Homo sapiens: one gene and its partners. The protein of the gene in region 2 interacts with the protein of the main gene of each other region in a biochemical or structural test. Each region holds a gene or a part of one and is shown on either strand. Other genes may lie near its edges.

Region 1 (3,500 bases), on a different chromosome or scaffold from region 2:
TGGCCAGAGCAGGACAGGAGGCAGTCAATGCAGAAGGACGTGGTCGGTGGGGTAAGCTGCTGACTCGTGATGGGGGTCAGCGGGGGAGGCTGGCACCTGCCAAGGACACCAGAAGCCAGGGTCTCACCAGGCAGCCTGGACAAGTAGGGGCTCCGGGAGCCCTGCAGGAGGCGGCCCACTGCTCCTCACAGCCTTCCTTCTGCGCTTCTGGATTTCATTCTGGATCCCCCCCTTGCCCCTCCCAATTTTTTTCCCATCCAACTCACCCACGCCTCCAAATCATTCCCATGTGGGTTTAGGCGTGGGCTCAAAGGACAGGGTCCCTGAGGCTCTGGGGGCGGCCACTGGCCCCCGATGGTTGGTGCAGAGGCTGCGGTCTGACTTTGGGAATGGTTCTCGAAGCGAACGCACACCCGTGCCCTCCCTATCCACAGAGAAATGACTCTGAGCCTTGCACCCAGACTGCAGCCCCGCGGCCCTGCCCAGCACCAGCCATGGCGAAAGAGTGGGGCGTGCCCAGCGGGGCCCCTTCTGGACTTTGATGGCTCCTGTGTCGTCAGTGGTGCCAGCGTGCTGGAGCTTACATTTCACTCTAGGGAGATCCAGTTTCATGCCTCAGCCCACCCCACCCTTGTGGTGTTGGGGTCCTGCCCACATGATCCTCACGTGTCCCTCCCTCTCACCATGGCCTCCCAACCCCCACTCTTCCCCGTGGCCATGTGGGAATGCCTGGGTCTCCACCCGGACAAGATTATTTGCAGCTACCTGTGGCTGTCCCCTGGGTGGGCTCCCAGGCGTGGGCTGGCTGGCTTGCCTCTCCAGCACCCACTCCTTCCATGCTTTGAGACCCACAGTGCTGCTCAGGGCTCACTGCTCAGGGACACTGACTCCCACCCAGCCCTGGGGCGAGCCTGGTCTGAGTCAGGCGTGGCCAACCTGGCCATTTCTGCCAGTCAGCAGCAAGACAAGGCCTCTGGTGGCTCCTGGGACTGCTTCCCGCCCTTGTCGGGAGACAGGACCTCTTCTTCCCCAGGACCTTGTGGCGTCTGAAGGTGAATCTTGCCACCATGAAACTGACCTACCACTGCATGAAGCTGCGGATTCATGGGGCCAACGTGCACACGCACTGGGTCTTCCCCTCTGTGGACCCGACACCCTCTCCACGCACACACGTCTCTCAGGCCTTCCCGTCTTCCCCGTAAAGAGCTCACACGTGTTTTCCTGGGTTTTCTCCTAGATATCTGGAGAGAGTTCTTTTTGCTAATGTGAACGAGATCTTTGTGTGCATTTTAATTAGTTTATTCCCATTATACAAGAAAGGTTTGATTTCCTAGACAGAAGGCCTGCTCGTCCAGCCCCCCAAAATCACAGCAGCCAGCTGAGCGGGTGACCATCTATTATGGGTGAATTGTGTCCCCACAAAAGACAGGTTCAAGTCCTGACTCCCAGTACCTGTGACTGCAATTTTTCTAGAAATAGGGTCTTTGCAGATATAATGAGTTAAGATGAGGCCACCCTGGAGTAGGGGGTCCTTAATCGCAGTGACAAGGGTCCTTATACGAGGTGGGGAATTTGAACACAGTCACATGGAGGTGGCCATGGGAAGGCAGAGACAGAGACTGGAGGATGAGGCACCGTCCCCTGGAACCCACGCCATCCCCCAAATCCCCGCCCCGTCCCCTGGAACCCGCGCCATCCCCAAACCCCCACACCGTCCCCTGGAACCCACACCATCCCCCAAATCCCCGCCCCGTCCCCTGGAACCCGCGCCATCCCCAAACCCCCACACCGTCCCCTGGAACCCACGCCATCCCCCAAATCCCCGCCCCGTCCCCTGGAACCCACACCATCCCCCAAGCCCCCGCCCCGTCCCCTGGAACCCGCGCCATCCCCAAACCCCCACACCGTCCCCTGGAACCCGCGCCATCCCCAAACCCCCACACCGTCCCCTGGAACCCACGCCATCCCCAAACCCCCACACCGTCCCCTGGAACCCACACCATCCCCCAAGCCCCCGCCCCGTCCCCTGGAACCCGCGCCATCCCCAAACCCCCACACCGTCCCCTGGAACCCACGCCATCCCCAAACCCCCACACCATCCCCTGGAACCCGCGCCATCCCCAAACCCCCACACCGTCCCCTGGAACCCACACCATCCCCCAAGCCCCCGCACCATCCCCTGGAACCCACGCCATCCCCCAAGCCCCTGCACCATCCCCTGGAACCCACGCCATCCCCAAACCCCCACACCGTCCCCTGGAACCCACACCATCCCCCAAGCCCCCGCACCGTCCCCTGGAACCCACGCCATCCCCAAACCCCCGCACCGTCCCCTGGAACCCACGCCATCCCCAAACCCCCACACCATCCCCTGGAACCCGCGCCATCCCCAAACCCCCACACCGTCCCCTGGAACCCGCGCCATCCCCAAACCCCCACACCGTCCCCTGGAACCCACACCATCCCCCAAGCCCCTGCACCATCCCCTGGAACCCACGCCATCCCCCAAACCCCCGCATTGTCCCCCAGACACCTGTGCCATCCCCCAAACCCCTGCGCCATCTGCTGGACACCCACGCCATCCCCCAGACACCTGTACCATCCCCCAAACCCCTGTACTGTCTGCTGGACACCCGCACCATCCCCTGGACACCCAGGCCGGCAGCCTCCTGCTGAGTGCTGGGGTGAGGGAGCCTGACGGAGGTCCCTGAACTGAAGATGAGTTGGCGCTTAGGGGCCGGAGGGAGGGACACAGGCGGCCGGAGGGATGGACACAGGCAGCTGGAGGGAGGGACACAGGCAGCCGGAAGGAGGGTGTGCCGGCCCAGGACCCTGGCCTCCCCCAGCCCAGCCCTGCCCCCGTGGACACCACCCAGCAGCGGACGGGCCGATGTGCACTTGGGAACCCTCACCCTGCTCCCGTTTCTCACTCCCGCCTCCTCCAGAAAAGAAATTCCCTCCAGAGCTGCTTCAGGGACTCGGGCTGGAGAGGCCCACAGGTGGGAGAGGGGCATGGGCGCCTCAGATCTGAGAAGCTCCCTGAACCTGAGGCCCGCCCACCCCCGCCTCCCATCCCTACCTTTCCCACCGGCGCTACCACCTCGAGGGCCTCTGCCCAGTACCTAGGAGACCCCCGTGCCACCCACCGCAGCTACACCCCCTCCCCGCAAAGGCCCCGCTGCAAGGCTCCAGCAGCTTTAAGGGCTCTGGCTGTGCGACGGGCATCAGACACCCAGCCAGGTCCCTGCTCCCCTCCTGGCCCCAGGAGAGCTGCGGGGAGCCTGGCCCCTTGGAGCCCCACAGGCACCTGCTGTGGGCCTGGTCCATTCCTCGGCCTCCCTACCCGCAGTGCTCCCTGCAGGCCAAGTGACTTCCCGGCCTACAGGCGGAGGAGCAGACCCGAGCCGGACCTTTGAGGCTGGGTAGACCTTGGAGGTGGGCGGCCCATGCCCCACTTTCCACACTGGGTTGAAGGTTGAGCCCAGTGGAAGGGGCATAGA
Region 2 (3,500 bases):
AGAAATAACAGAGTAAACAGACAACCTGTTGAATGGGAGAAATTATTTGCAAACTGTTCATCCAACTGGGGACTAATATCCAGAATATACAACGAACTCAACAGGGAAAAAATCAAATAATCCCACTTAAAAGTATGCAGAGGATATGAATATGCATTTCTTAAAGGACACAAAAACAGCCAACAGGTATATGAAAAGATGCTCGACATTACTAATCATTAGAGAAATGCAAATCAAAATGACAATGAGCCATTCTTACCCTAGTCAGAATGGCTATCACTAAAAAGACAAAAAATAGCAGATGTTGGTGAAATGCAGAAAAAAGGGGAACTCATACACTGTTGGTGGGAACATAAACTAGTACAACCACTATGGAAAACAGTATGGAGATCTCTCAAAAAACTAAAAATAGACCGGGTATGGTGGCTCACGCCTGTAATCCCAGCACTTTGGGAGGCTGAGGCAGGCAGATCACGAGGTCAGGAGATCAAGACTATCCTGGCTAACACGGTGAAACCCCGTCTCTACTAAAAATACAAAAAATTAGCCGGGCATGGTGGCAGGCACCTGTAATCCCAGCTACTCGGGAGGCTGAGGCAGGAGAATGGCGTGAACCCAGGAGGCAGAGGTTGCAGTGAGCCAAGATCGCACCACTGCATTCCAGCCTGGGCGACAGAGTGAAACTCCGTCTCAAAAACAACAACAACAACAAAAACTAAAAATAGAACTACCATTCGATCCAACAATCCCACTACTGGGTATCTACCCAAAATTAAAGAAATCTGTATCAAAAGGATACCTGCACTCACATGTTTACTGTAGTACTATTCACAATAGCAAAGATATTAAGTCAATCTAAATGTTCATTAACAGATAAATGAATAAAGAAAATGTGGTACATATACACAATGGAGTACTATTCAGCCATAAAAAGAATGAAATCATGTCATTCACAACAACGTGGATGGAACTAGAAGTCATTATCTTACGTGAAATAAGCCAGGCACAAAAAGACAAATATCACATGTTCTCACTTGTATGTGGGAGCCAAAAAATTGATCACGTGGAGGCAGAGTGTGGAATGACAGACAACAGAGACTGGGAAGGCTGAGTGATGAGGAAAGGGGGAGGATGAAGAAAAGCTGATTAAAGGGTACAACCATAAATTACGATAGAAAGAATATATTTAATATCTGACAGCAGAGTAGGGTGACTATACTTCACAAAAATGTATTGTACTTGGATGATGGACACCCTAAATACCCTGACTTGCTTACTGTACATTCTATACATGTAACAAAATTCACATGTGCCTCATAAATTTGTATAAATTGTAAAGAATTCAATCAGTAATTACTAACTAATTTAATTTGTAAGAATTTAATTATTATTAAATCTTAGTAAGAATCAATTAGTAAGTGGTTATGACAGAGATATTCTGAAAAGCCATGTACCTTTTCCCCCTCATTGTTTGACTCAAATATATAGCAGACTGATGACAGATTACTTTCACTTCTCCCGCTTGATGTCCGAAGAACAAATCCAAAAAGGCGCTTATTTTCCTGGTGTGTAGCATACAAAACTACACAAGGTAATGGAAACTGCCACAGAAAACATCAGAAGCAAACATGAGATCTTACAAGTCATTACAGCAGCACTTGTGACAAACTCATATGCTAAGTTCTAAAAATATAAATATTTTAATATATTAAAGCCAATTATTTTAACAGACTTGTAATGCAGAAACAAGTAATGTCATATTTGGTTTGAATTAACAAGCAGAAAAAGGTTGTTGAATATTACATTTGTTTTATTAGTCATTAACACATTTTACAAAGTCAAAAAGAACTGTGTTAAAAAAATTACAAAAAGAATTGTGTTAATTCTTTTAAGTTACATAAAATGTTCAATGACAACTTTTTGGAGATGGCCATAGACTTAACTACAACAGCCAAAGACCAATCATAGCTGATACTATCACACTTGAATATACAGGATCAGGATTATTATCAAGTTGTAAGATGTGTATATATACAAAGGGACCTAAAACAAAGCTTAAATCATGTGGAACTCACCGTGAGCCTTGTAACTTGTGTCTGTGGATCAATTAACCTAAAATAATAATTTAAAAATTGGAAAACAAATTTTAATTAGGCTGAAATCATGTAAATGTTTTTTCTACAGTTTTTTAAGGGAGGGTTTTACTTACTTTAAACAGTCACAAGTGACTAATAAATGCGATTCTGTCATACGAAAGATGTTATGGATGGCCCGGGCAGCTAAGATTTGGCGCATAGTTTCATAAACAACATCTGGATGGTCATCTGATTTCACCTCCATTGAACCAAGGAATCGGACAATAAATAACTGATGAAGAATAGAATCTATAATAGAACAAGGTGTATTACATATTTTTTTTTTACTGTATAAATTTACATTTTATTTTTTTCGCCATATTTCTTTTCCAAAAGAATAAAATACACTGCCTCCTTTTAGGTTTTCTAGTGAAAAATTCAACAGCCTAAGGGAGACATTTCAAAATAACTCCTAACTACAGTATTCCAAGTTATAGGAAAATTAGGGTTTCAAATTCAAATAGCTAAAAGTAATGCTTCAACAACTGGCAGTTCTGAGGCCAGGCGTGGTGGTTCACACCTGTAATCCTAGCACTTTGGGAGGCTAAGGCAGGAGGATCCCTTGAGCCCAGGAGTTCGAGACCAGCCTAGGCAACATAGGGAGCCCTGTCTCAACACACACACACACACACAAACACACAACAACTGGTGGTTCTTACAGCATTTCTGTAAGTTTAGAATTCAAATAAATAGTTAGTGGCGGAAAAACAAAATTTATGCTCCAGTACCAGAAGAGAAACATCAGCTGTTAGGAAAAGCTTGAAAGGTATCTTAGGCACTGAATTTGACTATAAAGTCAAAAGTATGAGAGTCTATCGTTTTGTATGAATCACAACATCTTAAGTCAGATTAAGTTCTGTTGCTTCAAGTGTACTATAAGTAAGTAGAGGAAATTCTGAAGTAAAGATAGCATTAAAACTGAGCTTAGTAGCAGAGCAAATATAAACAATAAATTATTCACAGTTTGCTGAGAAGCAGTTCTAAAATATATGAATGCTGCACATCTGTCTTACCTTCAGTTTCAGATTTTGTACTTCCTCCAGATTCTCCAAATGGATTTGTACGCCTAAAAAGTTTAGAAGAAAATATGAACACATGGTCAGTTACCATGAGCCACATAGAAGAAATCTAATTATTAAAACCACAGTTAACATTTAAAAAAAAAAAGCTCTAAAATGCCCCATCCTATTAAGAAACACTATTGATCACTAAATTACTATGATGAAGGCCTCTGCCCTCACACACTAACTGATCAATGTTGGTGCACTTTAGAAGACACAGATGAATTGGAAGTTTAGACATACACAACAAAAAATCAACATAATAAACCATGTTGCAAAAGTTCTTGAATTTAAATAAGCTAGC
Region 3 (3,500 bases), on a different chromosome or scaffold from region 2:
TACTTGTTCTGCTCTCACTCACTTTACTCTTAGAATGCCTGTATACCTACTCTTTCATAATATCAGAGCTTCTCTTTTACCATGAATCTCTTACAGACAGACTCTCTATTCTCGGGATGCGATTTGTTCATTCTGGCTTACCATAGCATAAGTCCAAATATTTTTTCCTATGCAAACATACCATAGCCATTAGGTCTTGGTGTGTGGGATCCTCAGGCTGTCACAAATTTCATTATGCCATCTGCTTCAACCTGAGCTGCGTGTCTTCTGCTGGCAAACTTTATTGAAGTTGCCATGGCTCAGGATAAAAAAAAAATCAATCTTGGCATAAGAAGCTTACTTTTGAAAAAATAATAATTGATCATGCCTGCTATAGATTTTAAAATAAACATTTAAAAGGATTCCCAAAAGTCTCTTCTCAACACATTGATCTCTTTTTCATCTGTGATTGTAGAAAGCTAATATAATGGTTAAGTTATTGGTAACTTTGGTAACTTAATGAGTTTTCTGTTTTATTTTTAAGGATAGGTAACAAACTCTTATGTATAGATTTTGGTGACATATTGTGAAATATTTTGATAGCTTCTGTCAGTGGATGTTCTTTACCTAATGTTTTATTTTAAATGATATCTCAAATGTTTTGTGGATAATACAAGGACTGTATGTTTTCTGTATAATACAAGGATGATAGGAACACCGTGATGAAAAAAAATCTAGGTCACAAACAACTTAGCTGTGTGACTTTACGTAATTTCATCATCCTTAGCATTGAGATGATACTTGAAAGGTTGTTCAGGAGATTGGATCAGAGTTAGATCCTTAAAAAATAGATAAACATTTTTTTTCTGCCAATGTATGTTGAACAACTCTGTATAAGGCATTCTTCTAGAGAACGAGGGCATAGTAAAAATAAAATAGTCAAAAATTTCCACTGGAGAGTTTTTGCATTCTAGTCGGTCTCCACTGACTGGGATGAAAGCTTCATGACAGCAGGGTGTGGATCAGGTGGTAATGAGTGCCATGAATTAAAACAGGGCACAGTAAGTTCGTGGAGTATAATGGTGCTGTCTTAGATAGGAATGCGAAGGAGGACTTTTCTGTGGTGAGATTAGGCACACCTGAATGAAATAAGGAAGCATGTGGATATTTGGGGAAGAATATACCTGTTTGGTAGAGTGAACAGCTTGGCACTTTGAGGCACAGTGAGGAGGGGAGCACAGCTAGGGCTAAGTGGGTGAGGGACAGACTGCTAGGAGATGAGGTCAGAGAGTGACTCAAAAACATCAATGAAGTAAGCTTTCTGATAAGTAGTTACAGATAAAAAGTCACAATCCAGGCACCCAACATAAATATGAAATTAGGATTGACTGCATTGCTTTATTATTATTTAGATTTAACTTCAAACTCTTTTAAAAGGCACACACAAATAATTATAGAATCATTTCCCAAAGTGGGATGATCTTTTCCGTTGTTGTTACGTGTGTCATTGTACTTGGAGTTAGCCAGACAGCACGATTTGAGGGCACAGTCCTCCAGACTGCCAGTGCTGCCCCACACTTCTGATACCAACTGTGGCGAGTTAGGGTCCAGCTACAAAGTTAAAGGTATAAGGATACACAAAACCACCCTCACTTATGATGTCAGCTGCAAATTTGCGAGGTTCCCCTAGCCACCTTGAGGTTTCATAATTCACTAGAAGGTCTTAGAGAGTCTCTGAAATCTGTTAAACTCATGGTTATGATCTATGGTAGGGAAAGGATGCAGTCAAGAGTCAGCCAAAGGAAGAGATGCGTAGTGCAGATTATGGGAGGATTCCAAACTGGAAGCTTCCATTTTGCTGGGAAAGTATAACTCTCCCAGAATCGATGTGTGACAATATGTATAGAGTACAGCCATGTGTCATTAGGTGATTTCATCCTTGTGCAAACATCGTAGGGTATACTTACCCAAACCTTGGTGATATAGCCTACCACACAGCTAGGCTATTTGGTATTGCTCCTAGTCTACCAACCTGTACAGCATGTTACTATATGGAGTACTGTATGCAGTTGTAGCACAATGGTAATTGTCTGTGTTTCTAAATATAGAAAAGGTACAGTAAAAATGTGGTTAAAAGGTAAAAAATGGTACACCTGTATAGGAGACACGTACCATGAATGGAGCCTGCAGGACTGGAAGTTACTATAGGTGAATCAGTGAGTGAGTGGTGAGTGCATGTGAAGGCCTACGACATTACTGTACACTACTAGATAGTCAATATACTGTATGCTACTAGATAGCCAATATAATGGTTGAGTTATTGGTAACTTTGGTAACAATGAGTTTTCTGTTTTATTTTTAAGGACAGGTAAAAAACTCTTATGCATAGAGTTTATACATAAGTTATAAATACTGTACACCTAGGCTATAGTAAATTTACAAAAACTTCCTTCAATAATAAATTAACCTTAGCTTACTGTAACTTTTTTTTCCTTTATAAAGTCTTAATTTTTTTTTAAACTTTTGACTCTCATAATAGCACTTAGCTTAAAGCACAAACACATGTATAGCTGTGTTTGACTGTGTTGCAAACCCAGGAAGATTACCTGATCTTGGTGTTCAGCATTTTTTATTGGCGTGTTATTTCATAGGTGTGATTGATTGCCCTGCCTATATGATTAAAATTCAGCTCCGAGTTTGGGCTTATATCATGTGGCCTTGGGGCCCACCATGAAGAAGAAAGATACCTCATCACTCAGGAAATTCTGAGAGGGGAAATTCTGAGAGTTTAGAGGTTACTTCATAGGATCTGGGGACAGAAAAATATATGTGTGGATGTATATATTTATGGGTGTGTTTTAATGAGTACCCTGAAGTTGAACCCTGGCGGTAGTTTTTGAATTTTCCCATCTAATAAATGGTGCTGCATTGAACATTTAGTGATGCACACACATCTTTGTGTATTATCCTAATGTTCATCCTTGAAATAAATTTCCCAAAATAGAATTGCTGGATTAAAGGATTTGGACATTTTGAAATTTCATTTGTATGTCCTTGTACCCTTGGGATATTTTCTATGAAATAGTTTATGGAATGTCAAAATTCTTAATAATCCCTGCATTACTCTTAGGTAAATATTGCAACTTCAGCAACTTCAAATATTGAATATGCCCACGTTCCTCATCTCAGCCCAGCTGTGATTCCTACTCTGCAAAATGAATCGTTTTTATTATCCCCAAACAATGGGAATCTGGAAGCACTTACAGGACCTGGTATTCCACACATTAATGGGAAACCTGCTTGTGATGAATTTGATCAGCTTATCAAAAATATGGCCCAGGTAAGAACATTTCTTTCTGTTAGTTATTGTAATACCTGTAGTAATTTAAGAATGTGATCAAGTTATGGATAATTTGAAGAATATAGTGACATTTATAACATCTGAAAACATTGGAACAAAAAGTCAGTTTTGTGGGAGTTTAGATGGTTCAGACGTTTTCTATTACAGTTTTATCATCATT
Region 4 (3,500 bases), on a different chromosome or scaffold from region 2:
TGCTTCTGGGGAGGCCTCAGGCAACTTACAATCGTGGCGGAAGGGGAAGGAAGCATGTCTTATATGGCTGGAGCAGGAGGAAGAGAGTTGGGGAGGTGCTGCACACTTAAAAAAACAGATCTTGGGAGAATTCTATCACAAGACTGTGTGAGGGAGATGGTGCTAAACCATTAGAAACCACCCCCATGATCCAGTCACCTCCCACCAGGCCCCTCCCCCAACACTGGGGATTACAATTCAACATGAGATTTGGGTGGGAACACAAATCCAAACCATATCAGTTGTTTCCTAAACATAAATATATTAGCTCTTATTCAACTTTTGAACTGTTGGGTTTATTTCATAGGTATTCTTCCATGTGCTATTCTGTCAGTGTGTCCTTGTTTCTGTGAGCTTAGTTTGGTAACATTCTCCCTCTTCCCCTTGCTTAAAAGGGCTGAAGAGCTAGTGAGTAGGTTTTATAAATCTGAGCAGTGTCAGAGTTTCTTCGTTGTCTTCCAGGGCTGGGCCCTGGAGTCTAACTTTGTCCTGGCTTACCGGCCACTGTTTCCTTCATCCATGCCCTTCAGATCTCAAGGGGTGCTCCATGTGTCTGCGTGTGTGCTTGTACAATCTTCTTGACTTTTCCTTACCAGAAGTTTCAAGAAGTAGATGTGACTTCTCCAGAGAAAGATATCCTTTTCAATCTGCCTTGTACGATAAAGGCCATCTCTTAAAGAACTACTGAATAAAATTTGTAATTTACTTTTATTTGACCCAGGCGGATGGTGCTACAAGTGATGACCTTGATTTGCATGATGATCGTCTGTCCTACCTGTCAGCTCCAGGTAGTGAATACTCAATGTATAGCACGGACAGTAGACACACTTCTGACTATGAAGACACAGACACAGAAGGCGGGGCCTACACTGATCAAGAACTAGATGAAACTCTTAATGATGAGGTTGGGACTCCACCGGAGTCTGCCATTACACGGTCCTCTGAGCCTGTAAGAGAGGACTCCTCTGGAATGCATCATGAAAACCAAACATATCCTCCTTACTCACCACAAGCGCAGCCACAACCAATTCATAGAATAGACTCCCCTGGATTTAAGCCAGCCTCTCAACAGGTAAGCAGCAAGCATTCAACGTTTTGTAGATAGAGGTGCATTATTAAATTTTAGAATGTGGTGATTGAGTTAAAAATATATATGTTGTCCTTTCTCCAGATTAAGAATTAATCTTCAATTTCAATTTGAGAGTACCAAGGGCTTAATTCTAAATTTTGTGTGTTTGTCTTAACACAGCAATGTACTGGATTTTTTTTTTTTCCCAAAAAGTTTAGGACATGAGGTCATAATTTTGTTATTCAGCACACTTAAAATGTATGTCTACCAATCACTATAAATTGAAGTGGAAAGTTAGCAGTAAACAGAAACACTATATTTAAAATATTTTAAACACTTCACAGAAAGCAGAAGCTTCATCTCCAGTCCCTTACCTTTCGCCTGAAACAAACCCAGCATCATCAACCTCTGCTGTTAATCATAATGTAAATTTAACTAATGTCAGACTGGAGGAGCCCACCCCAGCTCCTTCCACCTCTTACTCACCACAAGCTGATTCTTTAAGAACACCAAGTACTGAGGCAGCTCACATAATGCTAAGAGATCAAGAACCATCATTGTCGTCGCATGTAGATCCAACAAAGGTACCTGTGCTGCGGTGTTGCACTAATTTGTTGCTGTCCATCAATCTGGCACATGATCATTTTTGCTTTGCCCTTTAAGTGTTCCTTTTGCTTTTTTACTGCAGGCTTATACACTGTAATGCTTTCAAATCAATACAAATCATTTCAGTTTCGTAGTTTGCATGGCTTCCATTGGTATACTGATTATTTGAAAACAGGCCTTTTAATTGAGATTTGTGCTTATTATTTTTATTTTTGGCTTTCAGTATCTTCCAGAATTCCTTAATATGTAATCGAAACCCATCATAAACATATTTATGTTAATACAAATTATGATGCCCATAAATCTTCTTTAGGATTTTTCAGTGTCAAAATGAAGTGTAATCAATAGTGCATTAATTTTCTACTAAATTTAATATTTATCTTTAACTCACTGTTTATTTAGTACATGCTGAAACATAAAAGCCCCTACCTGCATTATAAATTTTGAGCTTTCACTTAAACCAGCTTTTTCCACTAATCTTGTCTATCCTGATAATAAATGGTAAAACATACCATTTTCACATATTAAATCGTAGTTTAATATTTAATCACAGTCTAATAAAATAGACTAGAATTAGAAACAAGACTTTGTCCTTAAATGTGAATTTTTTATACAGGTGTATAGAAAGGATCCATATCCCGAGGAAATGATGAGGCAGAACCATGTTTTGAAACAGCCAGCCGTTAGTCACCCAGGGCACAGGCCAGACAAAGAGCCTAATCTGACCTATGAACCCCAACTCCCATACGTAGAGAAACAAGCCAGCAGAGACCTCGAGCAGCCCACATACAGATACGAGTCCTCAAGCTATACGGACCAGTTTTCTCGAAACTATGAACATCGTCTGCGATACGAAGATCGCGTCCCCATGTATGAAGAACAGTGGTCATATTATGATGACAAACAGCCCTACCCATCTCGGCCACCTTTTGATAATCAGCACTCTCAAGACCTTGACTCCAGACAGCATCCCGAAGAGTCCTCAGAACGAGGGTACTTTCCACGTTTTGAAGAGCCAGCCCCTCTGTCTTACGACAGCAGACCACGTTACGAACAGGCACCTAGAGCATCCGCCCTGCGGCACGAAGAGCAGCCAGCTCCTGGGTATGACACACATGGTAGACTCAGACCGGAAGCCCAGCCCCACCCTTCAGCAGGGCCCAAGCCTGCAGAGTCCAAGCAGTATTTTGAGCAATATTCACGCAGTTACGAGCAAGTACCACCCCAAGGATTTACCTCTAGAGCAGGTCATTTTGAGCCTCTCCATGGTGCTGCAGCTGTCCCTCCGCTGATACCTTCATCTCAGCATAAGCCAGAAGCTCTGCCTTCAAACACCAAACCACTGCCTCCACCCCCAACTCAAACCGAAGAAGAGGAAGATCCAGCAATGAAGCCACAGTCTGTACTCACCAGAGTTAAGATGTTTGAAAACAAAAGATCTGCATCCTTAGAGACCAAGAAGGATGTAAATGACACTGGCAGTTTTAAGGTAAATATGTCTTTAGTGCCTTGGATGCATGGGCACACCGTTTAAAAGGCTTCTTGGCTCTCCCCTCCGCCATTACATGATATCTATTCTGTTAATTATCTGTTCCTTAGGCATATTTGTCTTTTTTTTTTTTTTTTTTTTAAACAGCCTCCAGAAGTAGCATCTAAACCTTCAGGTGCTCCCATCATTGGTCCCAAACCCACTTCTCAGAATCAATTCAGTGAACATGACAAAACTCTGTACAGGTGAGTACACTTTGTGCTCTTTGTGGCATAGAACTGACCAGGAATTTAACCC
Region 5 (3,500 bases), on a different chromosome or scaffold from region 2:
TGAAGGAATGAAGAGGTCCCAGGCGTGGGGGCCTCTTGGGGGATGCACACACCTCAACACACACGCATACAGCACACGCACAGGCACACAAACGGCGCACGCACGCACACACACACACAGCACACACACAGGCACGCATGCATGCACACACGCACAGGCACACACACAGCACACGCGCACAGGCACGCGCGCACACACACATTCTTGCTTTAGGCTTTACATCCACTCCCATTGGCCTGGCCTGTTTCTCCTCTGTGGGACCAAGGTGTTTCCAGCCCCACAAACGCCCCCTCCCCCAGACCCCAGGAGCCCAAGCCCCAAACCCCCGCCCCCAGTCCCAGCATCCCCCTCCCCACGGCTCTCTCTCACCCTACCGGCCCTTAGGGATTGCTGCAGCTCCGAGGCTCCGAGGGCCGCACTGGGGAGGGGGCCACCAGGGTCTCCTACCTTGAAGGGGGAGAGGTGGGCGTGGCCCACGACCCCGTGGCCAGCCTCGAGGTGGGACAAGTTCCTCTCCGCCACGTGCACCAGCTCGGGGGCGTTTACCTGGTTGGGGAGGTGGGCCGGGCTGTGCTCCAGAGGGGGCGTGTCTTCATCTTGGTAGCGGTATTTCTGGGGATGGGGACGGAGGTGTCACTGGGGCCAGCCCGGTGCCTCAGGCTCCAGGCTGGCCGCCCTGGCCGCCGCCTCTTCCCCCAGCCAGTGCAGTGCGGAAGGCCCTGGGGCCTGACCAGCTCCTCCCCCTCCCTCTCCTCTAGCCCATTGGCTCCCCTCTCTCCACTCTCCCAACAGCCCCCTCTCCCGCCAGGGCCTCAGCACCTCTCATCAATCCCCAGGTCCCAATCCCATCCCCCAACTCCTACTCCTCACATCCTGGGACACTGGCCTTCTGGTGGGCATAGCCCCTCTGGCATCTGTGTCTTCACCCCTTTCCCCACCACCTTCATCTTCGAGTCCCTCCAGCTTCTCAGAGCTCTAGCCCCGACACTCACATCTCCATTCTCTGCCTCCAGTCCCCAACTTCCTTGCTTCTCTCACCATCTCAGACTCACTCTTGTTCTAGCCTCCCCTCCCCTACCCCTCTGGCTGCTCCTACTCTGCATGGCATCCTCCCCGCGCCCCACCTCCATGGCCTCAGTCTCCCCATTGCAGCCTCTACCCCACAGGTGATTGGCTCTCCTTTACCTTGCACTCCTTAGGCAAGGACTGAAGTCACCCCTTCCACCAGAAGGTACTTGGTATCAGCCCCCGAGACAGGACAAGGCTAAGCCTGTCCAGTTCACTGCCCTTGCTGGTTTCCAAGCAGTCAACAGAGGGGCCCCGGGAGTCTGGCCCTACCCCTGCAACAGCCCACAGCCCAGCCAGCTAATCCGGTTATGCTATAAGGGCATGGGCTGGGGGAGGAAGGGGAAGAACAGAGACAGCAGGGCTCAGGACAGGGGCAAGAATGGGTGCCAGCCTCCCTGGTTGGGGAGGAGGGTAGCATGCTGAGCCTCAGAGTGAATTTCTGGTCTCCCTCTGCTCTTTTGGGGTGAAAGGCCCAACATGACCCCTGACTCCCTGCCCAGTTAATCAGCTGCCATCCCAAGGGCCTCCTGTGCTAGCTTAATAGGGACAACAGTAAAATGAGATTAACTGGGGGCCAGAGAAGGAGGAAAAGGGCAGATGGAGACAGCAGAAGAAGACAGCGTTTCTGCCTGGGTCCTTCCGTGTCCGCCTCTGCCCTCGCCTGCTCCTCTCCTCTGGAACGGGCCTCCACAGAGACTGACCCTCCAAGCTCCAGGTTCAGGAAGGGGAAGGTATCATACGCAGGGATCCCTCAGGAACTGAAGAAGACAGAATGCACCGCCCAGTACACATGGGTAAAAAGAGAAGGCACGGCAATCCCAGCACTTTGGGAGGCTGAGGCAGGCAGACAGCTTGAGCCCAGGAGCTGGAGTTGGAGACCAGCCTGGGCAACACAGTGAAACCCTGTCTACAAAAAATACAAAAATTAGCCAGGCATGGTGGTGCACACCTGTAGTCCCAACTGCTAAGGAGGCTGAGGTGGGAGGATTGCTTGAGCCCAAGAGGTGGAGGCTGCAGTGAGCCATGATCACGCCACCGCACTCCAGCCTGGGCAACAGAGTAAGACCCTGTCTCAAAAAGAGAGAGAGGCCAGGAGCAGTGGCTGATGCTTATAATGCCGAGGTGGGTACATCACCTGAGGTCAGAGACCAGCCTGGCCAACATGGTGAAATCCCATCTCTACTAAAAATACAAAAATTAGCTGGGCGTGGTGGCACATGGCTGTAATCCTAGCTACATGGGAGGCTGAGGCAGGAGAATTGCTTGAACCTGGGAAGCGGAGGTTGCAGTGAGCCGAGATCATGCCACTGCACTCTAGCCTGGCGACAGAGTGAGACTCCATCTCCAAAACAAAAAAGAGAGAGGGCGAGCAGAATTTCCCTCCCAAAAGTTTCTGAGAGGCTGAGAGTGCCCTAATACTTAGAGGGCAGCAGCTGCGAGATCAAATGGGAGGAAGCTTATCAAGGTCAATGGCCAATCCTTGAGTAGGATTCTGAAAATGTTAAAGATGATGAATCAAGGCTGAGAATATAACACAACTTTGGCTGTAGAGTAAGGGTACAGTAAGAGAATGGGAGAAGGGAAGTGGTCCTGTCAGCACGAAAACTCTCAAACCCAGAACACAGAGACAACTCAAATCAAGAAGCACCCTGATACATTTAAAGAGTCTTAAAGAAGGAAAACGGGCTCAGCAAGATTGAGTCTATTCTCTGGGCCACAGACTTGGAGAGAATCCTGAACTCCAGATTTCAATCCGATGGGCACAAAAAGTAGAGAAGGAAAATAGGAGAACACACAAAATAGCCCTCCTCCAAGGCTGAGCTGTCTTGAATAAAGGAGTTCTATGAACCAACAGAGACTGTTCATTCCACATCCTGAGAAGGTGGTCTTCTACCTGGGCAGTGCACAAGCTGAGGGGCAAGCCCCAGAATTGAGACCTGGGGGAAGGGGTGGAAGCCGCTCTCCGCTATCCACTCTTCCTTCACAAGGCCTCCAATTCCCTGCAAGGTAAATTAGGACCAAAGCTCCAAGTTTTGGAGTCTGGGGGAGGGTTTGAGTCCAGTGCCTCTCCATCTTCACTCCACCTCAGAGAGAAAATTCCTGAATCTGAGGAGGAAATGTCAGCGTGCACCCAAAGAAAATGGAAACATGAGGAGGGCCATTTCATCATTTATTCTAGGGAGGAAATGAAGGTAAACTTTTATCTCAGCGAGCCCCCAATACCTCTCCCTGCCCCACCCCCATGGAGGGAGGGTGGTGTCTGGCACTGAAGAAAAGGCTCCTCAGGATTGGGAGGCAACATGGAGAAAATGGGGAACAAGAAATGGGTGCCAGGGTTTCCAGAATGTGGCTGGAAGAGGTTAGGGACTAGGTTCAGTCTCTGGAAATTTTCGACGTACATGTAGGGGGGCGGGGAGAAACGTCGGGAGGGG
Region 6 (3,500 bases), on a different chromosome or scaffold from region 2:
GGGAAGCAGAACAGTTTTCTCTGGTGTTTTACTGAGTTTTTGTCTTGATCCTAAATCCAAGGGTTAGGGTCAGAAACACAGACTCAGAGGTTAGATTTAACACCCATTTAGTGGGTTAAACACATCAATGGTTATGTGAACTTTGTTAAGGTTTAAAAAGCTATTTAGGGCCTGTTTCTCCCTCATAGGAATTTTTGCAATCAGCCTTTTTAGTAGATGCCCATATAGAAAGTGAATTTGGGAGGGTCTAAGGTGGTATTACTATTAAACTTTTTGAAAAGGCTGTGTGATAGCAATGGAAAAAAAAATTCAGGCATGGAAATCCAATATGCAGTATTGCAGTAGCTAGTTTTAATTTTATTTTTGTTTTTTTGGTTTTTTTTTTGGAGATGGAGTCTTGCTCTGTTGCCCAGGCTGAAGTGTGGTGGTGCGGTCTTGGCTCACTGCAACCTCTGCCTCCCGGGTTCAAGCGGTTCTCTTGCTTCAGCCTTCAAAGTAGCTGGGATTACAGAAGTGAGCCACCGTGCCCGGCCACTAGTTTTAATTTTGGATGGTACCTAGGAAAGCAGTTGAGCTAGTATGCTGCATACATTGTAGTGTGAGAGGCAGAGTTCCGAGTTGGAGAGTGTCTGCTTCCACTTTTTCCATTTGATTAGGAAAAGCACTTCTTAGAACTGGGTGACTGACAGCTAGAGCCCCAGAAGACCTGCACAAGCTGGGGCAATGGCTACCCATAACAGTGACGGCTCCATTCTGTTTTTTAAAGGGATTGGTGTCTCTATCATCCAGCTGGCCATTAAACAACCAAAGCTTCATCATCCTAGATAACCTGTGAGCTCTCAGAGGAGACAGAGTAAGGACTATCATACCCCCAAAATACCTAATCATTTAATAAAGCATTTTCTCTACCTTTTATGCTATCCCAAAACAGTGCTTTCCAAAGTCTGGTATACAGACAGACTTACAGGTGGTGCAGAGAGATACATATTCTATTTTTCAATTATGATGCATGAATATTATATGTTAGGAATAAAAACAGAAAACCAGCTACCACATCCATTTATTTCATGGCTAGATTGCTTAGAATGAGGCAAAAATAAATATTAAGTAAAGCAGTGAGTTTGCTTTAAGAAAAATTATCAACTCTGGGAATGAGTAATATGAGGCTAAGGCAAAAATGGTAAAGCTAGCCCTTGACATCTGAGGTGTGCATAATACTGCTTAAAATATGAGTGTGGTGCTTACTTATAGAGAGCCTGGTATACCTTGACCACGCCTTCAAGAAAGTCAAACACAGAATGGCCCAGAATAGCCAGGAAAGTTGAATTTGATGGACTTTCTGTCTTAAGCGTGTGCATCCTGCTCTTATCCACTCAGATCTCTTAGATGTGGTTGCAGACAGTGTATTTGTAGAGCTAGCTGTTTGTTTTAACGTCTGGCCCAATTCTCATTCCTTTCTCTGCTTCCACAAGCCATTCTGCAGTTTTTAAAGGTCTGTTGGTATGATATTTTTGATATGATAGAGTGATAGGGGAGGAAGTATTTTGACACTGATGAAGGACATCACTGTATTATCAAGTGACTCTTGCTCATGATTCATTGCCGAAGAATGTGGACAGCCAAACAGCCTCACCTGTAAATGCATTTAATTTCTCAAAGTCTTTCAGAAGAATGCCAACTGGATGAGTTTTTTTTTCTTATTTTTTTTTTAATATGAAGCTTGTATTGGTCTGTAAAATAGGCTTTAACAAGGATTTTCGTAGGAACAGGAAGCCTTGAGGTAGAAAACAAGTATCCCTGCTTTGACCTAGAGAGATGCATGCTCATGGCAGGCGAATGAATCAAGGAGAAGAGAAAATACTGTTTCAGTAGACTCTCTAGTGATGTGTGTGTTCACACCATTTATGAGAAATCCTAAGCTTTCAATTAGTAACTTGTACTTTAGTCATTTAAAATCAGCACAGATGTTTGTTTAGTGCCTCTGCCAGATGGTTAAAGTTAAATCAGGTTTTTTAACCTGAAAAACGTAATGTAGCTTTCCTTAACCATTTACACACCATTGTATATTGCAGACCATAGTCAGATACATTTTGTTATAATGAATGTTTATTTTACCTTTTAGCTCAATTAGAATATCAGTGGTTATGGTTTCTATTTTGTTTTCCTACAGTTACTGTATGGGGGTGCAGTAACAGCGGTGGTGGTGAAAGTAAGTTACTTTTTTCTTTTTCTTTCTTTTTTTTTTTTTTTGAGACGGAGTCTCCCTCTGTCGCCCAGGCTGGAATGCAGTGGTGCGATCTCGGCTCACTGCAAGCTCCACCTCCCGGGTTCACGCCATTCAGCCTCCCCAGTAGCTGGGACTACAGGCGCCCGCCACCACGCCCGGCTAATTTTTTGTATTTTTAGTAGAGACGGGGTTTCACCATGTTAGCCAGGATGGTCTTGATCTCCTGACCTCGTGATCCACCCGCCTCGGCCTCCCAAAGTGCTGGGATTAGAGGTGTGAGCCACCGCGCCCGGCTGAAAGTGAATCTCTTAATGGATCTTCCATGAATCAAATATTTGTGTTTTAGTAAGTTAGGCTGACCAAAAGATTTCGAATCATACCTTTAATCATGGCAAGGATCTTATGTCACATTCTTGAGTACACATGTTCACTAAATTTTACCTATATGTGTATGTGAACATGGACTTCAGAATTAATTAGTGTGGTAATTATTATTTCTATTGTAGACTTTAATCAGCCATATTAAATATATGCATTATGTTCACAGAGAAAACATGGTATCATCTTTGGAAACTTTACAGTATGCTCTATATTATAGATACCCTATATAACTATGGTACTAAACACACGAGTTAGTGACAAGTCAGGCATTTGGAGGGAATGTTTGTAACCCATTGTGGGAGAGAGTTATTAGAATAGTTATTCTTACTGGTAGGTAACAGTTATGGCTGTAATGAATAGAATGTGACTAAAATCCAGTTATGCCTTTGCCATCGTATTAAAAGCTTTGGTGGAGACGTGAGAACATTGCAGATACTTTGGATTTTGTCACTTGAGTTGAAGGTAAACAGAGAAAACAGTACTTTCTAGTCATCAGTAGGAATTAACTCTTCCAGGACATGTAGCTTCAAGGACCTTCTAGGTTCTTCTGAGGGGGAAATAATGTTCCACTTGGGGCCATTTTTTTCCATTTGTTGAGAGTCATTTGTTTTCAGAGTATTAAAGGAAGTGTTCCGAGTTCTAGGTTGTGTTTCTTTGATGCCTACTAAAGCTGAGCACACCTGAGACCCTGGGTGGAGCTCTACAATGGGAATAGGAGTAAGTAATGTAGGCTTCGAGAGACAATCATTCTGCTCTCAGTCCTTGGAAGACTGTTCCTAGGTATATATGGCAAAGCAGATGAAATTATTTGAGGGAATTAATTAGCAAAACTAAACATTTCTGTTTTTGAAAGGAATGAATCATTTGGAAGGAACTTCCTGGTGAGCTCAGT
Region 7 (3,500 bases), on a different chromosome or scaffold from region 2:
CCATACCTAGTTTTCTTTTTTTCTAAATAATAAGTGATCCTCCCACTTCAGCCTCCTGAGTAGCTAGGACTACAGGTGCACACCACCATACCCAACTAATTTTTTGTTTTTAAATTTTGTGTAGAGTCTCACACTCCTGGTCTCAAGCAATCCTCCTGCCTCAGCTTCCCAAGGTATTGAGATTACAGGAGTAAGCTACCTAAAGCTGTTTTTTAAAGCCATAACTTAAAAAAAAAAAATCAAACTACAGCCTGCAGCAATCACTGATGGTCATTCAGGTCACCCATTTAACAAGATCCCACTGAATTTTCCACCTTACATCATAAGTTTCTGATCATCAGCAACAGATCCAAACAATGACTCGTGCAGCAGGTGCCAGGCCACATCCTCTACAACAGCTGAGTGGCCAGTAAAGATGGCTTTAGCATCCACAATTTTGCCTTCTTTTGGTCCTGCGTTTATATCCCACAGACAAACAGTCTAAGAGAGAAGGAGAGAAAAAAAAAAGAACAAGGGCTATAAGAGACTGATTTTTTTTTTTTTCCCTCGAGACAGTGTCTCAGTCTGTCACCCAGGCTGGTGCGATCTCGGCTCACTGCAGCCTCCGCCTCCAGGGCTCAAGCGATTCTCCTGCCTCAGCCTCCTGAGCTGGGATTACAGGTGCAAGCCACCATGCCTGGCTCATTTTTTTTGTATTTTTAGTAGAGACGGGGGTCTCACCATATTGGCCAGGCTGGTCTTGAACTCCTGGCCTCAAGTGATCCGCCTGCCTTGGCCTCCCAAAGTGCTGGGACTACAGGTGTGAGCCACTGTGCCCGGTCAAGAGATTGAATTTAAATGCTAACATCTTATTTAAAATAATTTCATTACAAACAAAACTATTCAACTATATAAGTTTGAGGTAAACACAAGAGAGAAAATATAAGCAAACAGAAGAGTATGTGGCTGCAGCCTCCATGTGAGGTGCAGAGGAAAAGGACACTCCACTGTAATGAGGGGGAGGGGAGACTGAGTACAGTGGCAGGCAAGGACACTGATGCTGGAATTTCTACCTACATACATTCAGACATTCAAGTACCCCAAATTCACTTAGACAACACAACAAATCACCAAGAGCCCGGCGCTCAGCATCTACTGAACACAAATGCACATCCTAAAAGTTTACACTGGGATGGGAAGACTGGGAATTAAAATTAAACTCTGCCTCTCACATAGCAAAAGCCTCATGGACAAGTCTTTCACTTCATGGCAGAAACCACCACAGACATCAGGAGATGGGACAGGTAAACGACACTGGGCCAGAAACCTCTACTAGTCTACTCTGAGAGGTCAAGGCCTGGCGCCCACAGACAGATCCCCAATGATGTGCTCCTTGAAACGTCAGCAGAGCCCAAGCAGAGGCCATGGGGCCTCTGCTTGGGCCTCAAAGGTCACAGCAGCCCACAAATAAGGAGGCCTCATGATGTGGGCCTTGACATCCTATCACAGAAAGAGTTAAGAGGAAAGTTTTAATGAAAAAATATTGCAAGGTATAGGGCAACGATTCTCATTCAATAGTTAATAAGAAATAATACCATGAAGGTATATTAGCACTAATTATAGTTCCACCGACACTGGTATGGGTTTTTTTTTTTTTTTTAATTCATAGCACGTGATCATGAAAGGGCTTCATCTGTTTTTATTAAATCACCTTTTTTTTTTTTTTGAGACGGAGTCTCACTCTCTTGCCTAGGCTGGAATGCAAGGGCACAATTTTGGCGCACTACAACCTCCGCCTCCCGGGTTCAAGCAATTCTCCTCCCTCAGCCTCCCGAGTAGATGGGATTACAGGTGTATGCCACCAAGCCCAGCTAATTTTTTTGTATTTTTAGTAGAGACGGAGTTTCACCACGTTGGCCAGGCTGGTCTTGTACTCCTGACTTCAGGTGACCCACCCACCTTGGCCTCCCAAAGTGCTGGGATTCCAGGCGTGAGCCACTGTGCCCAGCCACATGAAGGACTTTCTGTAACAAAGCTATTTCCCAGTAATGGCTATTTTCCCAGTAACAAAATTTTTTTTTACACAATACATATGCCCTCAGTCTCTGTTGTTACTTACACATGAAGACACTCAATGTGTGTGAACTGAAGAGAAAGGAACATGTGGTGCTCCTGCCATTCACACTGACTCAGAAGGACCTGGCAAGATTAGCATGATGCTTGGCATGTGGGTAGCCCCTGGTAAATGTCAGCTATTATTATTACTACCAATTCCCAGCCTGGTCTCTTCAAAAGGTACTAGTAATTGGGTTACTGAGTACAATCCACTTATCCACTTTCCCTACTTGGGAAACCGTCTCATACACACTTTGAGGGAAGCATCCTTTCAGAGAGCCTATAATCCCAGCTCTTTGGGAGGCCAAGGAAGGTGGATCACTTGAGCCCGGGAGTTCAAGACCAGTTTGGGCAATACGGCAAAACTCCATCTCTACAAAGAATACAAAAATTTGCTGGGTGTGGTGGTGGGCGCCTGTAGTCCCACCTACTTGACAGGCTGAGGTAGAGAACCACTAGAGCTGGAAAGGTGGAGGGTGCAGTGAGCCGAGACTGAGCCACTGCACTTCAGCCTGGGTGACAGAGCAAGACCTTGTCTCAAAAAAAAAAAAAAAAAAAAAAAAAAAGTGAAAAGACAACAGAATGGGAGAAAATTTTTGAAAATCATAGGGACTTATACCTAGAATACATAAGAAACTCTTATAACTTGACAATAAAAAGACAAAATTAAAATATGGACAAAGAATTTGAATACCTATTTCTCTAAAGGAGATATGCAAATGGCCAGTAAGTACAAGAAAAGATGCTCATCATCATTAGTCATCAGGGAAATGCAAATTAAAACCACAATGAGCTGGGCGTAGTGACTCATGCCTGTAATCCCAGCACTTTGGGAGGCCAAGGCAGGAGGATTGCTTGAGCCCAGGAGCTCAAGACCAGCATGGCCAACATGGTGAAACCCTGTCTCTACTAAAAGTACGAAAATTAGCTGGGTTTCATGGTGCATGGCTGTAATCTCAGCTACTTGGGAGGCTAAGGCAGGAGAATCGCTTGGACCTGAGAGGTGGAGGTTGCAGTGAGCTGAGATCGTGCCACTATACTCCAGCCTGGGTGACAGAGACAGACTCCGTCTCAAAAAACAAACAAAACAACAACAACAACAACAACAACAAAAACCAACTCCCCACCCCCAAGCCAAAAACAAACAAAAAAAAACCCAGGAAATACCACTTTATGCACACTAGGATAGCTATAATAAAAAAGACAAGCATTAGTGAGGATGTAGAGAAACTGGAACATTTGTACATTGCTTGTGGAAATGTAAAATGGAAAGCCACTTTGGAAAACAGTTTGGTAATTCTTCAAAAAATTAAACAGAGATACCATATGATCCAATAATTCCACTCCTAGGTATATATCCAAGAGAAATAAAAACATACATCTACACAAAAACTTGTAAACAAATG

The links.
Region 1: the proteins of APPL1 (region 2) and RHPN1 interact in a test that uses a peptide from one of them, tested with the Homo sapiens proteins (one large-scale study listed by IntAct).
Region 3: the proteins of APPL1 (region 2) and MPDZ interact in a test that uses a peptide from one of them, tested with the Homo sapiens proteins (one large-scale study listed by IntAct).
Region 4: the proteins of APPL1 (region 2) and TJP1 interact in a test that uses a peptide from one of them, tested with the Homo sapiens proteins (one large-scale study listed by IntAct).
Region 5: the proteins of APPL1 (region 2) and DLG4 interact in a test that uses a peptide from one of them, tested with the Homo sapiens proteins (one large-scale study listed by IntAct).
Region 6: the proteins of APPL1 (region 2) and TJP2 interact in a test that uses a peptide from one of them, tested with the Homo sapiens proteins (one large-scale study listed by IntAct).
Region 7: the proteins of APPL1 (region 2) and RBBP7 form a complex in vitro, tested with the Homo sapiens proteins (one study listed by BioGRID).

Annotation. Positions count from the first base shown.
Region 1 is NC_000008.11:143,371,876-143,375,375, reverse strand, and holds part of RHPN1 (rhophilin-1), read right to left. Parts: intron 1,645-3,500; exon of another isoform or gene 1,242-1,644; coding exon of another isoform or gene 1,083-1,241; exon of another isoform or gene 1,079-1,082; intron 1-1,078. UniProt on the Homo sapiens protein: Has no enzymatic activity. May serve as a target for Rho, and interact with some cytoskeletal component upon Rho binding or relay a Rho signal to other molecules.
Region 2 is NC_000003.12:57,258,729-57,262,228, reverse strand, and holds part of APPL1 (DCC-interacting protein 13-alpha), read right to left. Parts: intron 3,202-3,500; coding exon 3,149-3,201; intron 2,385-3,148; coding exon 2,210-2,384; intron 2,113-2,209; coding exon 2,076-2,112; intron 1,602-2,075; coding exon 1,455-1,601; intron 1-1,454. UniProt on the Homo sapiens protein: Multifunctional adapter protein that binds to various membrane receptors, nuclear factors and signaling proteins to regulate many processes, such as cell proliferation, immune response, endosomal trafficking and cell metabolism.
Region 3 is NC_000009.12:13,224,193-13,227,692, reverse strand, and holds part of MPDZ (multiple PDZ domain protein), read left to right. Parts: intron 1-3,109; coding exon 3,110-3,319; intron 3,320-3,500. UniProt on the Homo sapiens protein: Member of the NMDAR signaling complex that may play a role in control of AMPAR potentiation and synaptic plasticity in excitatory synapses. Promotes clustering of HT2RC at the cell surface.
Region 4 is NC_000015.10:29,717,969-29,721,468, reverse strand, and holds part of TJP1 (tight junction protein 1), read left to right. Parts: intron 1-760; coding exon 761-1,111; intron 1,112-1,452; coding exon 1,453-1,692; intron 1,693-2,330; coding exon 2,331-3,203; intron 3,204-3,350; coding exon 3,351-3,448; intron 3,449-3,500. UniProt on the Homo sapiens protein: TJP1, TJP2, and TJP3 are closely related scaffolding proteins that link tight junction (TJ) transmembrane proteins such as claudins, junctional adhesion molecules, and occludin to the actin cytoskeleton.
Region 5 is NC_000017.11:7,207,628-7,211,127, forward strand, and holds part of DLG4 (disks large homolog 4), read right to left. Parts: intron 613-3,500; coding exon 547-612; intron 1-546. UniProt on the Homo sapiens protein: Postsynaptic scaffolding protein that plays a critical role in synaptogenesis and synaptic plasticity by providing a platform for the postsynaptic clustering of crucial synaptic proteins.
Region 6 is NC_000009.12:69,177,277-69,180,776, forward strand, and holds part of TJP2 (tight junction protein 2), read left to right. Parts: intron 1-766; exon of another isoform or gene 767-853; intron 854-3,500. UniProt on the Homo sapiens protein: Plays a role in tight junctions and adherens junctions. Acts as a positive regulator of RANKL-induced osteoclast differentiation, potentially via mediating downstream transcriptional activity.
Region 7 is NC_000023.11:16,853,363-16,856,862, forward strand, and holds part of RBBP7 (histone-binding protein RBBP7), read right to left. Parts: intron 481-3,500; coding exon 320-480; intron 1-319. UniProt on the Homo sapiens protein: Core histone-binding subunit that may target chromatin remodeling factors, histone acetyltransferases and histone deacetylases to their histone substrates in a manner that is regulated by nucleosomal DNA.